Homo sapiens: one gene and its partner. The protein of the gene in region 1 interacts with the protein of each later gene in a pairwise test. Each region holds a gene or a part of one and is shown on either strand. Other genes may lie near its edges.

What was found.
Region 2: the proteins of GGPS1 (region 1) and ATOX1 interact in binary tests that used the Homo sapiens proteins (3 or more experiments, as listed by UniProt).

What each region holds. Positions count from the first base shown.
Region 1 is NC_000001.11:235,324,391-235,331,631, reverse strand, and holds the start of GGPS1 (geranylgeranyl pyrophosphate synthase), read right to left. Parts: upstream 3,063-7,241; 5' UTR 2,854-3,062; intron 2,625-2,853; exon of another isoform or gene 1,132-2,624; intron 1-1,131. Other genes in the region: ARID4B (AT-rich interactive domain-containing protein 4B), read left to right, coding at 4,713-4,718. UniProt on the Homo sapiens protein: Catalyzes the trans-addition of the three molecules of IPP onto DMAPP to form geranylgeranyl pyrophosphate, an important precursor of carotenoids and geranylated proteins.
Region 2 is NC_000005.10:151,755,632-151,763,101, forward strand, and holds the start of ATOX1 (copper transport protein ATOX1), read right to left. Parts: upstream 3,001-7,470; 5' UTR 2,921-3,000; coding exon 2,915-2,920; intron 2,730-2,914; exon of another isoform or gene 2,658-2,729; intron 1,441-2,657; exon of another isoform or gene 1,307-1,440; intron 1-1,306. UniProt on the Homo sapiens protein: Binds and deliver cytosolic copper to the copper ATPase proteins. May be important in cellular antioxidant defense.

The DNA.
Region 1 (7,241 bases):
AGCCCGGTGTATGTGTTAATAAGTTGCAACACAAATGTATACACTGCCACAAAGACTTACAACATACAAATTCTCAGAGATCATATAGTCCCTGAATGTTTACACGTACCTCAGATTAAGATTCCCAGCTATGGAATATCTTTACCCTTTAATGCCAAGCAGACAAATATTCGTGTTTGTGTTATAACAAGCTAAGACATAAATTCCACTAGCTTAACTCTTTATTGAAGGCAGATTACAAATGAAAATTAAAGCACAAAACTAGTGTATAGTTCAGGTTACTCTTCAGGATTGAAAGGCATATTTTTTTGTAGTCTGTTCTTATCTATATGAAACAATCATAAAAAAGATCAGCACTCCACCAAAAGAAATCATTTTAACAACATGAATTCAAAGAGAAACATCCCATATGGAAAATTTCTACATCCATCTTGACTAACAATTAATACCAAAGACGTCGCAAGGAAAAAAAGGCTCATAAAGAATCAAGTAAGCGAAATAATCAACATACCTATTAGGCAAAAACCTATTTAGTTAGGTAACCTATTATGCAAATACCTATTTAGGTAACCTATTACCTATACTATTTGATCTCTGACACGTGACCTTATTATCAGGGATTGAAGTAAGAAAAGAAGATGCAAAACAGGAAGAATAATGGCTTAGCTAAAAGATTATTATCGAACATCATTAAAAGTAGAATTAAAAAAGGATCTCATATACTTCTCTATTTAAATGTTAGTATCTATCTTTTCTCAACTACAAGTTGGGAGCAAGAATCACGTTTGTATATTTTCTCACAGCCTCCAAAACACATTTGACCGAACTTAAAAATCAATGAGATGCACTTTCAGAATTCCCTTTTGTGTCAGGACCTGTAACAGGTGTACCCTGTTGCACAGAAATCAGAGCTAATCTTTGTTTCAATTCGTAGAGCTTTGTGGTTGATGTTATTTTTCAACTTAAAACACTAATTATGCTTTAAAAAATATTTCCTTTCCTCACTTAGAGATGTTTAAGAATACTCACTTAAGTCAATTTCCTGTCCCAGAGGATATTTACATACAAGCATTTTCAGTGGTATGAAAACATAAGAACTTCAATTTTTCCAGGTATCGACAACCAACTTGCCTTGTGTCTTTCTTCTGAAACAGCGTCTCACTCTGTCGCCCAGGCTGGAGTGCAGTGGCGTGATCTCGTCTCACTGCAAACTCCGCCTCCCGGGTTCACGCCATTCTCCTGCCTCAGCCTCCCGAGTAGCTGGGACTACAGGCGCCCGCCACCTTGCCCGGCTAATTTTTTTGTATTTTTAGTAGAGACGGGCTTTCACCGTGTTAGCCAGGATGGTCTCGATCTCCTGACCTCGTGATCCGCCCGCCTCGGCCTCCCAAAGTGCTGGGATTACAAGCGTGAGCCACCACGCCCAGCCGCCTTGTGTCTTCTTAAGAGTCTAAAGGATTCTACACACCGTGGCATATACTCTCACCCTCACCCGCCTTTGTTTTTCTTTTAAATCAAAGGATTTCCCAATTTATCACAGCTGGAAATTTCAGCTATCACATACTAAAGTTAAATGTAAAGAGGCATTAGTGTGTGTTACATGAACTCTACTAGTTTCCTTTTAGAGTGAAAAAACTACAGAATACCTCAGTGAGAGTCTGAAACTTCTCACTTTCAAAACTAAAAAGCTGCCAGAAATTTGTTCAAAGAGTGAATCCATAATCATTAATACAAACGCTCCATTCTTTTCACCATGTGAACTACTACGGCAATAGCCTCCTCGTCGGGTTCCCTGCATTTGCCTCTTTAACTCTTCTTTTTTTCGCTTCCTCTACTCTTCAGCCAGGGATGACATTCCAATCGGAGCCATCTCTCCCTTTTGATTGAGATTCCTTGGAAGATATCCCATTGCTATTAGGAGAAAACCAAAACTCCTTTACAAAGCCTAAAAGGTTCGACACTCCCCCTCATCCCATCTCTCCAGGCTCAGTTCTTCATATTGGAAAAGCTCCCTTCCGCCACAGGGCTTTCTGACAAGTTAGTCTTTTTGTCTGGAATGTCTTTTCCTTTTCTCTTTCCTTAGTTAACTCCTGCTAGCCCTTCAGCTCTCAGCTCGATCCTCACTTGCTCAGAAACCCTTCCTTTCCCTCCCTAAAGAAGCCAAATTCCCTCATTCTCCTATCACCGTGGAACTCTCCTCTGGGGCACTGCCACTGCGGTAATTTCACATCGTTTTGTTCAGCATCTGTCCGTCTCACCAGGCGCAGGTCTACGAAGGCAGAGGCCACCCCAGTGGTCGGCGCTCAACACCCATGAAGAAATGAAAGCGCCTTCTAACGCGTTAGACGATGAAACCAGGGCACACAACCTTGCGTCTAAGAAGTGAACATCCCATGCAAAAGACTTTTCAAAGGGAAGGGCCTGGTTTGAGAATGGCCAGAGACATACAAATGTGAAGCGCATACTGAATCCTTCCATTCATACTCCGGGAGAAAGACGATGGATCTGAAAGAAGCCGCCTGATATAAACAGGGAATTTCAATCACTTCGAGGCCGATTTTCCACAGCGGCTGGGCAGAGAACTGCAAACGTATACAGTGCTAGCACAGAGTCCGGAGGGGAAGAAACGGTGAGGTTTCTGCTTCCTCCTCGCTCAGATGCTCCCTTCCGCCCCACTTGGCCAACCCTTCCTCTCCCTCCTCGCTTAAAGCTAGGGGATGGAAAATTCATACACAATCCGGTTCAGCATCCGGGTCCTCACTCTCCTTTCTTTCTTTCCTCTGCCCCGCCTCCCAGCCTCCCCCGCCCTTCTTCCCATCCGGGTTCCCCCCAGCCGCCGCCACTGCCGCTCACAGTTCAACGATGATATCACGACTTTCACGCCGCCGGTCCGGGAGTAACTGTACCCCGCATCAACTTCCTATTTTATAATGTGGACTTAGGCTCTTCCCGATGCCTACATGAATCCTTCCCACTATTTCACCACAGAACTCTCCGCCCTCCTCAGCCGCCAGCGACACCGCATTAGTTGGTGCAAGAAAATGCGCCATCCCGGTCACACTGCGCAGGCGTCGTTGCCGCCTCCCTACTGCTTTGTTGCCCCGCCCCTTTCACCTCCCCCCCGCCCCCGCACCGGTCCACGCAGGCGCAGGGCATTGCGGGCCTTGCAGTTCTCGCGGACGAGGATTTGCGCGTTGGCCCCAGAGTATGGACTTTATTTCCCAGAAAGCCTTGAGGCGTAACTTTCTGTTTCCATAGAACTGGTGGGAAAATGGCGTCGTTGTTTGTATCCAGGGACCAATAGGAACAGTGTATAGGCGGGTTCTAAAGAACTTTAACCAATCCAAGGTCGTCTAAGAGGCCATCCGGGAAAGAGGTAGGGGAGGGGGGGAAAAAAAATCTAGGGGAGGGGAGAAAGGGGGGGAACCTAGAGTCGGTGGGGGGGAAGCGATGTTTGCCCGTCAGTCGAGTCCGGAGTGAGGAGCTCGGTCGCCGAAGCGGAGGGAGACTCTTGAGCTTCATCTTGCCGCCGCCACGGCCACCGCCTGGACCTTTGCCCGGAGGGAGCTGCAGAGGGTCCATCGCCGCCGTCCTCTGGAGGGCAGCGCGATTGGGGGCCCGGACCTCCAGTCCGGGGGGGATTTTTCGTCGTCCCCCTCCCCCCAACCAGGGAGCCCGAGCGGCCGCCAAACAAAGGTACCAGTCGCCGCCGCGGGAGGAGGAGGAGCCGGAGCCTCTGCCTCAGCAGCCGCTGGACCCGCCGCCCTTCTTCCCCATCTCTCCCCCGGGCCTGCTGGTTTTGGGGGGGAGAAGGAGAGAGGGGACTCTGGACGTGCCAGGGTCAGATCTCGCCTCCGAGGAAGGTAGGGATATTTTCTGGGGCTTTCGTGGTCTCCTAAGGGGGTTCTTTTGGGAGTCGCTGGGCCCGGCCAAGGAGCAGAGGAAGATCGCGGTGGTGGTCCCTGCGGCGCCCGAATTCGGGGCCTCGGCCTCCCGGGAACCCCCACCCCCCGCAGCCGCTGTGTCCGAGCCGCCCCCTGGCTGGGCGGCCGCACACTCAGCGGTTTAGCGGCCGCGGTCGGGGGCCCGGGCAGGGTGGGGGCCGTTCCGCCTCCGGGGCCCTCGGCCCTCACGTTGTCCCCGCGGCGGGGCCAGATGTTGATCTCGCTCCCACTTGTCGGGTCTGAGCCCGGAACGGGACGTGGGCAGGGGCTCTGTGGCGGGCCGGTCCTGCCCGCGGCCCACAGGCCCTCCTGGCCCCTCGGTGGCCCCCGGCCGGCCTCTCGCTCGGACGCGGCGCGTGGGGGCGCGGATTCGCTCGGCCGGGCGCCGAGGCCCTAGGGGAGAGCGGCCGGCCCTGCGCCGGACGCCGGGCTTGTTGTGAGTTTCTTCTCTGACAGAAATGGCGTCATTGTCGTAGACGGGAAACTCCGTCGGGTCTCGACAATGGGGACGGGAAGCTGCCGAGCTGTGTAGGTGGTTGGGTTTGCGGGGATGGCGGGGCCGGAGGGAGCCCCGAGTCGGCGTGTGATGGTTCGGGGGCTGGCGCCTGGTTGCGGCTCTTTCTTCGGGGTTCGGACGTCGCTCGCTTCTTTCCCTCCGCCTCCGCCAGTGCAGAGGGGCTCCTGTGGTGTTGACTGGGTGTCTTTTGTTTCCCCTCCAGGTGCAGCTGAACCTGGTGTTTTAGAGGATACCTTGGTCCCAGAGTCATCATGAAGGTAAGATTGCCTGCGGAAAACGAATCTCTGGGGTTATCGAATTCAGGAAGTAGGAGGTTTCGACGAGGTCGTCGTGTGGGGCTTCCGAGTTTTGCAGAGGAAGGTGTGTTTGGTGACTTGGTGACCGAGCCCTTCCCCAGAGAGACCGGGGTCAGCTGGCGGGCTTTGCTGTGGAGTTGGAGGCAGTTATAGGATGTCTCAACTGAAGATGATTCTCCCATATTGAACATCTCTTTTTGTAGGGAATGAGAGGAATAACGGCATGAATTAAAGTGTTTTAAAAGGTAAAATAAAAAGCAAGTCAGGTAATCTGACCCTAGAAACTGAACTGTATTGTGGTTCTATCAGTTACACTGATGAAAGAGAATCTTATTTATTGTGTGAACAGTACTGTAAAATTTTAGCAGAAAACTCTTTGACTCGTCACAAAAATAATTTAATTGAAAGATTTAAAAAGAGAATTTTTGTGATTTTTTACACAATTCAGAGATACCAGTTGTTTCTTGTATTTCCAGTGACTTGGGGTTATATGGTTTATTTTTCTTTATTGATCTGGTTGGTCTGTAAATAAGTCAGAGGCTCTGTTGCATTATGATGTGTGGAAAACTGATGGCCAGGTTCCTCTTAGATGTCAATATGTTAACTGAGTGGAGAATAGGGTCAAAAAATTTGCTTAATTGTTGGAAGAAATGATAACGATAAAAATACAGGTATTTTTGTTACTTGAGAGAATATGTATATGAATGCTGTCTTTTTTTTTTTTAAACACATGCTAGAATAAAACCTTAGATTTTTGAAAAGTCTGGATTCAACTGGTGGAACTTAGACACTAGCTTGTATTTTTTCATCCATTACAAATTCAGAAGTGCTTGAAAAGGGTAGAGTGTTCACAAGTGTAGAAATGCAACAGATAGCATGTTAGAATATCAACGTTGTCTACTTTTGACAGTTCCTTTGAACTATTTAAAAAAATATTTCACTTGTCCTCAGAATCAAGACTGCTTTGACAATTTTGCATCCAAATTAAAATTTGTAATACTTGTGGTTGTAGAAGGTAAAAGCTGTGGCTACTTAAATCTTGGTCTACTATACAGAGTAATTAAGTTTAGTCTAATTTTTTTAAGGTTTTCTCTTTGAGTTTGGGATGCTGTAAACTACCTGAAACAGTTTATTCCTATCTCATTTCATGAAGCATAGACATGTTTCAGGAATGAATCCCTTTTGTTAGTCACAAATCCTAGCTATAACTCTCATCACCTGTGTAAAACAGTGGTGAAAGTGCATTTATTAGGTAACTCGTATATGTACCTTGATGTTGGGTGAGAATTTCTTAAGAAAAGTTTTGGTTTGAGTAAGAAATAATAAGTTCAGAAGCCGAATAAATAAAAGGTTTAGTTTGGAGTAAATGTAATGTGTCACATTTCCCAGTGTTGTAGTGCTTGTCACTTCTTAGGTGCTCTATAAATGTTTGGTTAAAAGAAATGTAGTTAAGTTGAAAGTCTGAGATTAAAATGTTTTTTTTCTTCCTTTCGTTTCCTTTTTTTTTTTAAGTAGTCTGTTTAAAAAAATGAAAGTATGTTGGAAACTTTAGCCTTAAAAGTTTCTTGGTAATACTAGCCAAATGCAAATTTTTTGGTATCTTTTTAGAAATACTAATTTTAAGTGCTCAGCATTACATTCTACTGCATTTTTTAAAAAGGTGCTTTTAACGTTAAAAGGAAAAAGTTACTAAAATAAATTTCTAACTTCATACAAGTACTTCCTGTTATTATAAGTATAGCAAATCTCAGAGAATTTGCTAGTAATTATTAGTACTAAAAACTTAGCTTATTTCTTACAACTTTATTTCTTATGTGATAAAAGATGAGAAGCTTCTTGTAATTTGTATTTTGCTTTAGCAAAAATTGCAATTCAGAATCTATTTAATGTTGAGTGTATTAGGCCTAAATTTTGTTTCTTTTTCTGTGTGTTCCCAATTTCTTTCGTTCTTTTTTATTTTTCTTTTTGATATAGAGTCTCACTATTTCACCCTGGCTGGCACGATCTGTAACTGCTGCCTCCTGGGCTCAAATAATCCTCCCACCTCAGCCTCCTGAGTAGCTGGGACTACAGGCACACCTGGCTAATTTTTGTAGTTTTTGTAGAGATGAGGTTTTGCCGTGTTGCCCAGGCTGGTGTCGAACTTCTGGGCTCAGGTGACTCTCCCGCCTTAGCCTCCCAAAGTGCTGGGATTACAGGCGAGAGTCACCGTGCCTGGTGTAATTTCTGTATTACGATGATCATTGAGCTACAGAAGGTTTTATGCCATTTATTGGATCTTACCAAACATATTTGTACTTGGGAGCAAGCTTTTAAGTTTGAATTGTCTGTTGTATTAACGACAACAAATCTTTAAATTTTATTAAGTGACAGTTTATTGAGGTGATTGAAAGTTAGATTATGTAGTAATACTTTTTAGGTGTTGTTTTAAAGTTGAAGTGTTGTATGTTTTAGCAGTTTTCCCATGTACTACCTTTAAGAATT
Region 2 (7,470 bases), on another chromosome or scaffold:
CCCCCACAGTATAAAGGTCAGAAGCCAGAAACCAGCTTCTGGGTATAAACATTACAGTTCAGTGCTCTCCTCCTCCACCTCTGAGGGGCAAAAATAAATTTGAGGGTGATGGAAAATCTATTTCATGGACAGAGTAATCACTTCTTTATAGGAGAATCTCAAGATTGGCTCTACCACCAGATGCATAACTGGGTAGTTCTGGTTCCTCATGGCCTCTGGGGTCTTTTATAAAGACTTATAAAATGGGTAGATTTTAAAAGCCAGTAGGTTTAAAGTAGGTTTTTAAAGTCAGTAAGTGGGATGATTCTTTTTTTTTTTTTTTTTTTTTGAGACTGAGTCTCACAGTGTCACCCAGGCTGCAGTGCAGTGGCACGATCTCAGCTCACTGCAACCTCCGCCTCCTGGGTTCAAGCGATTCTCCTGCCTCAGACTCCCGAGTAGCTGGGACTACAGGCGTCCGCCACCATGCCCGGCTAATTTTTTTGTATATTTAGTAGAGACGGGGTTTCACCATGTTGGCCAGGCTGGTCTCAAAGTCCTGACTTTGTGATCTGCCTGCCTTAGCCTCCCAAAGTGCTGGGATTACAGGCATTACCCGCCGCACCTGGCCTATTATTATCCCTTCTTGACAGATGAGGAAACTGAGATTTAGGGGTTAGTTCACACACTCACGGTGATTCGGCTGAGTAGGGCCTGAATTGAACATAGTCAGCCTCTAAAACCTCAATGCTTAACCACTGAGATCTTGTTAAAATGGGATTGAAAGCTGCCTGCCTATAGTTTTCTCTTCTCTTCTCTTCTTTCTTTCTTTCTTTTCTTTCTCTCTCCTTCCTTCCTTTTTTTTTTTTCTTTTGAGACAGGGTTTCACTTTCACTCTGTCACCCAAGCTGGAATGCAGTGGCACGATCACGGCTCACTGCAGCCTCAACCTCCCAGGCTCCAGCAATCCTCCCACTTCAGCCTCCCAAGTAGCTGGGACTATAGGCACGGGCCACCACGTCTGGCTAATTTTTTGTATTTTTTGTAGAGCCAGGGTTTCATCATGTTGCCAAAGTTGGTCTCAAGCTCCTGCATTAAAGTGATCTGCCCGCCTGGGCCTCCCAAAGTGCTGGGATTACAGGCGTGAGCCACCATGCCCGGCCTCACCTGCCTATAGCTCTAGCCCACCTGTCCTACGTCTACACAGGAGCTACCATTTCTTGGGGACTAGATATATCAGTGGCTGTGTGACATATTTTACTGGCATTTTTCCAGTTAATACTAACAACAGTCCTGTGAGGTCAAAGTTTTTGTCCCTATCTTACAGATGAGGAAATCAAGGCAGTGAGATAAAGCAACTTGCCTGAGGTCACCCAGTTGGCAAGCTGGGGCACAGATTTTCAGAGGTTTCTGGGATTCCAAACCCTGTGCTCTCGGGCATTTGTCTGAGAAAACTCTCAGGTAACACACTCTTCCCCTTCCAGTATGTGTATATAGATATATTTTTTTCTTCCCTTTCCAGTTTTGAGGAAATCCCTTGACTAACACCCTCTTTCCTTCAGCTGTTATCTTGTGGTACATGGTGCCAAGTGCCCTCCTCATTCCCATCATCTGCTCCAGAGGGTTTTTTGTCAAAATCCCCAGAAGATACAGAATACAGTGATGATCAAGCTAGCCTTTTCCTCATTGCCACCCCCCACAAAAAATCCTGGTGGCCTTCACTCCCCAAGCCCCAGGGCAATTAATACTGTCTTCTACCATTGCCACAGGCTGACTTGCCCAACTGGTAGGGCTGATTCTATCAGATTCCTTATCCATACTTTGTTGTTGGAGGATTTGTCTCAAGGCACCTGGCAAGACCCACAGGAAATGACACCTGAGATGTCAGTGGCTCTGCCCAGGAGGCCTCAGGCTCACCTGCCAGCTCCCTAAAGACAGGATGCAAAGACACATGGCAACTGTGGGATACCTCTGGGTATCCACCTGGCCCAGAGCCATGAATTAGGCACCCTGAAGAAAATGCTAAACACCACATGACCCTAACCAAGATGCAACTGAGATCAGAGCATCTTCCCAAGCCGGTGTGACTGCTTTTGCCTGGCACCTCCCATGTGGTCAGGCCTGGAGAGATGGGGAGCCTAAGGATAAGGAGCTGAATCCTGGCTCTGCCAACTTCAACACGACCTGGAATAAGTTACTGGGCTTTTTATATTTTTATCTGCCAAAGGCCTCAATTCTTTATATAAAAAACGAGGCCACGAGCAACAATATATGTGATAAGACTGAGTGATCTGCAAAGGCAGGCTAAGACTGACTTCCCAGACACAGCCACTGAGCAACTGGTGACTGTGCGGGGGGGTTCCTGAACCTCTCTGGGGCTCATGGGTTCAGGCTGAGAAAGTGTCTCCATTCAGTGTCGCCCAGAGTTGATCTGAAAAGTAGGCCAGAGTGGGCAGGGAAATTAAGAAAAGCATGAACCTCTGAAAACCTGCCCGGTCCGTGAGGAAATAACCGGGTCCACTCCCTTGTCCAGAGCCTCCCCACCGCCCTCCTTCAGGCCAGCTCCGCGGGCAGGGCAGCCAGGAGGAAGGCTCAGGGACTAGGCGTCTCAGTTCCCGCTGGCCACCAACTCCCCCATCCCCTGCCCCCTCTCTGGTTCTGTTTCTCTGTGTACGCAGGGAAGGTGTGGGCTTGTCGCCCCTGGAGGCCTTCCAGCTCCGACGTTTTGAAGCCTGGCTCCCAGATTAAACTCCCTTCGGATCCCATTTTCTGAAGGGTCGCAAAAGCTGGGGGCTGGGTGGGGTAAGCTAGGGGACAACAGCGGCTCCGGCCGCCGCCTGAGCCCTTCAAGATCAGCATCCGGTCAAGCGGCTGTGCAGCCGAGAAGCAACCCGGGACTGCAAGTCTGCGTGGCGGGGACGGCGCAACCACTCACCGGCATGACTGAGGCAGCGGCGGTGTGGCGGCGGTGTGGCGGCGGTGTCAGCAGCGCCTCTCTGGATTCGGAGGGCGGGTTCGGCTGCGCTTCCGAGAGTGCGCACTAGAGGCCTGGTCCCGGAGGCCCCTCCCACTCCGGGCCCGGCCGCGAGGGAGGCTCCGCCCCCTCCAGTCCTGATCCCTGCCGGCCGCGCCGCCTCCTTTCTGCGGGCCGGGCCCGTGGTCACCCGGCCTGGACGGAGAGAGGAGGTGAGAGGGGCGCTGCGTTGGCCTCCATCGACTGTCGGCCTTTTTCAGAACGCCTACTTCGGGTCAAGCTTGTGTTAGGGAATGCCAGAGAAGGGCACCGCCTTGAACAGGACATCATCCATCCATCCCTAAAAGGACAGTTTCACTCATTTATTCACCGAGTCAATTTTTATTAAGCGCCAGCCAACGAGGACGCAGCGGTGGAAGAGCAGCAGCAGGAGGCTGCGAAGGACGCAGGCAGTGATAGTGCAGGGTTAGCAGAGCTGTTGTGACAGAGGAGGAAGGGCCCTGACTGCAGTGGGGTGGGGGCGGTTGTGGAAGAGAGGCGGCCTGGGGAGAAGGCAATAATCTGGACCTCGGTTAGCCTTTATCGCCCTGTTACAGGCTTTGTCTCTAAATACAGTCGCATTGGGGGTTAGGGTATCAACATAGGAATTTGCGGGGACACAATTCATGTCCATGTCAGAGTTCAGTCCCTAGCAGAGCCATACTGACTAGAGTTTTAATCTCAGCCCTATCATTTATTAGCCATGTGACCCTGGGCAGATGAACTTACCTCTCTAAGCCTCAATATCCTCACGTATAAGATGGGGACAGTTAAGGTCACTATACAATTTTTTATCTGAACCTTTTGCTAGAGAAAGGAGATGCTATTAATAATTTTGCCAGGACAACAGGCAAACACCATGACTGTTTCAGGCAAACAACGACACATGGTTCCCTCCAAGAAACCTACTTTGCAGTATTGTTGGAATACATGTAATGTGTGCAAACTTCTTAATACATTGCTTGGCACATGGTAGGCACCAAAAATATATATAAGTATTCTCTAATTGCTAGGCCCTCTGTTGGCCTCCCTGGCACTGGGTCTTCCGCTGCTCACAAAATACCCCTTAACCATTCATCCCCTACCCAACCTGCCAGGAATTCCCTAAAGATGGAAGGGAAGGGGGCGAGGAGGAGAGGGAAAGAGGGTACTGGCACATTAGGTCCTGTACGGGCAAGGCTTAGCATCTTGGTAGTCCTGGGTACAACTGTGCCCTGGGGCTAGGGATAGCTAGATTGCCATGAGGGAAGGCGGAGAGTGGACATGAGGGAAGGAAATCCTTCCCAAAGCAACAGTACACAGGGCGAACCACCCACGGCATGTTTTAGAGAATTAGGGGTATGGGTTGGGGGGATGGCTAAGCCTAGAGACAGCAATTTAAAGAGAAGACAGCTTTATAAAGATCTGTTAAAGATCACAAATAAAGACCTATTAAAGAGGAGAAGAAAATATGCCAGACTGTAGTTCCTGCATAAATATATACATACATTCCGTGTATTTACATTAAAATAAGCATGAAATGAACCACAGCCAATGTTACTAGAAGTTATCTTGGATAAGTGTAGGATTTGCAGGTGGAATCCCAATGTACCTACTGTTTAATTTTCAAATAACACAAAGTAGCGTACAGTGAAAAGTAGGTCTTCCTCCTACCCTGACCTCTCCTTCTTAAACAAAAGGCATAGTATACACAGTTTTGCATCCTGCTTTTCTCACTTTATAAAATATCTTAGAGATTATTCCTGGGCCAGATGCAGTGGCTCATACCTGTAATCGCATTGCTTTGAGAGGCCTAAGTGGGAGGATCACTTGAGCCCAGGAGTTTGAGACCAGACTAAGAAACATGGTGAAACCCTGGCTCTACAAAAAATACAAAAATTAGCCGGGTGTGGTGGCATATGCCTGTGGTCCCAGCTACTCAGGAGACTGAGGTGGGAGCATCACTTGAGCTCAGGAGGTCAAGGCTGCATTGAGCCATAAGTACACCACTGCACTCCAGCCTGGGTGACAGAATATGACCCTGTATTTAAAAAAAAAAAAAAAAAAAGATTATTCCTTAATAGTACATATCAACCCTTTTCTTTCTTAGCTTTTTTTTTTTTTTTCCCCGAGATGGAGTCTTGCTCTGTCGCCCAGGCTGGAGTGCAGTGACGTGATCTTGGCTCACTGCAACGTCCGCCTCCTGGGTTCAAGCAACTCTCCTGCCTCAGCCTCCCAAGTAGCTGGGATTATAGGCGCCCACCACCATGCCCGGCTAATTTTTGTATTTTTAGTATTTTTAGTAGAGACAGAGTTTCACCATGTTGGCCAGGCTGGTCTCGAATTCCTGACCTCGTGATCTGCCCACTTTGGCCTCCCAAAGTGCTGGGATTACAGGCAATGAGCCATCACTAAGCCAGTGAGCCTGGGAAATGGGCATATAGAATCCCTGCTTTCTGGCTGAAAGTGTTGTTGCAAGGATAGGAATGTGCACACTGTAGGCATGTATAGATGGTGGGTTCTTCCTGGTGTAATCTACTTCTAGACCCAGCCTCCTGGGATGACCCTTTCTTTGACAGATGCTGAGGAGTTTAATTCTTTGCAAAGAAAGGTTTTGTAGCTGCTGCCTGCTCCCCGATATCCCCACCGCAGGAAACCAAGTGTCTGTTTTTTGTATCATAACACAGGTATACACCACTTGCCTCACTGCTTTATCCACCAACGGACCCTTTATCTGGGACCAAAGATTCTGAGCTGAAAGGGCCCTCAGAGCAGCCAAGGCATGCATGAGAAGAGAAGGGCTATGAAGTGGAAGCTGAGGGAGCGTGGACTGCAGGCTTGGGAGAGGGAGCATGGTGTCCTGCAGAGCCACATGCTGGCAGAACTGGGTCTACAGACACATTTTATTCAGTCCCTAAAGTATTCAAAATATTTTTTGATTAGTTGACAACAGTTAAGAACTCTGAGTATGCTTGTACAACATTGTGAATATATTTAATGCCACTGAATTATACACTTAAAAATGGTTAGAAAGAGGAATTTTATGTTCTGTATGTTTTACCACAATTAAAAATAGGGCATGGTGGCTCATGCTTGTAATCCCAACACTTTAGGAGTCCCAGGCAGGAGAATTGCTTCAAGTCCAGCCTGGCAATATAGCGAGATTTTGTCTCTACAAAAAATTTAAAAATTAGTTGGACATGGTGTTGTGCACCTGTAGTCCCAGCTACTTGGGAGGCGGAGGTGGGAAGATCACTTGAGCCCAGGAGGTCAAGGCTGCACTGAGCCGTGATCGTGCCACCACACTCCAGCCTGTGTGACAGAGCAAGACCCTGTCTCAAAATAAAAATAAATAAATAAATTTATTTATTTCTAGACTGACATGTAAAATTAGTTGCTTTCTTATTACAAGACTAGGAAAAGCATTTTTAAAAATAAAAATTCTAAATAGTTTTTAATTTTTATTTTTTGAGACAGGGTCTTGCTGTGTCACCTAGGCTGGAGTGCAGTAGCGTGAACATGGCACACTGCAGCTGTGACCTCCTGGGCTCAAGGGATCCCCTGACCTCAGCCTCCTGAGTAGCTGGGACCACAGGTGCATGTCCCCACACCCAGCTATTTTTTTGTATGTTTTTGTAGAGATGGGGTCTTGGCATGTTGATCAGGTTGCTCTCATAAGCAATCCTCCTGCCTCGGCCTCTCAAAGTGCTGGGATTACAGGCGTGAACCACCGCACCTGGCCTAAATAAGTTTTTAAAAAGGGTGATGGGCGGGTGCAGTGGCTCACGCCTGTAATCCCAGCACTTTGGGAGGCAGAGGCAGGCAGATTACTTGAGGTCAGGAGTTCAAGACCAACCTGGCCAACATGGCGAAACCCCGTCTCTACTAAAAGTACAAAAATTAGCTGGGCATTGTGGTGGGTGCCTGTAGTCCCAGCTACTTGGGAGGCTGAGGCAGGAGAATCGCTTGAACCCCGGAGGTGGAGGTTGCAGTGAGCCGAGATCGCGCCACTGCACTCAAGCCTGGGCAACAGAGCGAAACTCTGTCTCAATAATAATAATGATAATAAAAAGGGTGAAACCTATTCAGTTAAAGTCCTCAGAATATTTCCATTGTATTTTTTAGGCAAGACCAAAAGTTTTCGTACTATCAGTAAATGTTTTAAAAAAAGAACATTGAGTCACATAACCTAGAGTTTTAATATTTCCTGAAAAACTGAAAGATCTGGAAACATGTCTATGACTGACAGGATAGGCCAAGTAATATTGTAGTAACAAACAATCCCAAAGCCTCAATGGCTTAAAATGACGAAGATTTATCTCTCCTGTGATATGCCCATAACTGGCTGAGTGGGTTGAAGCTGGAGGAGTGGCTCTGTGCAAATTGGTTTTGCTCAAGCACCTGGTTTGAGGAAGAGTCACCATATAGAATGGCACTGATCTGAAAGTGTCCCACCAAAATTCGTATGTTGAAACCTAATTGCCAATGTGATAGTATTA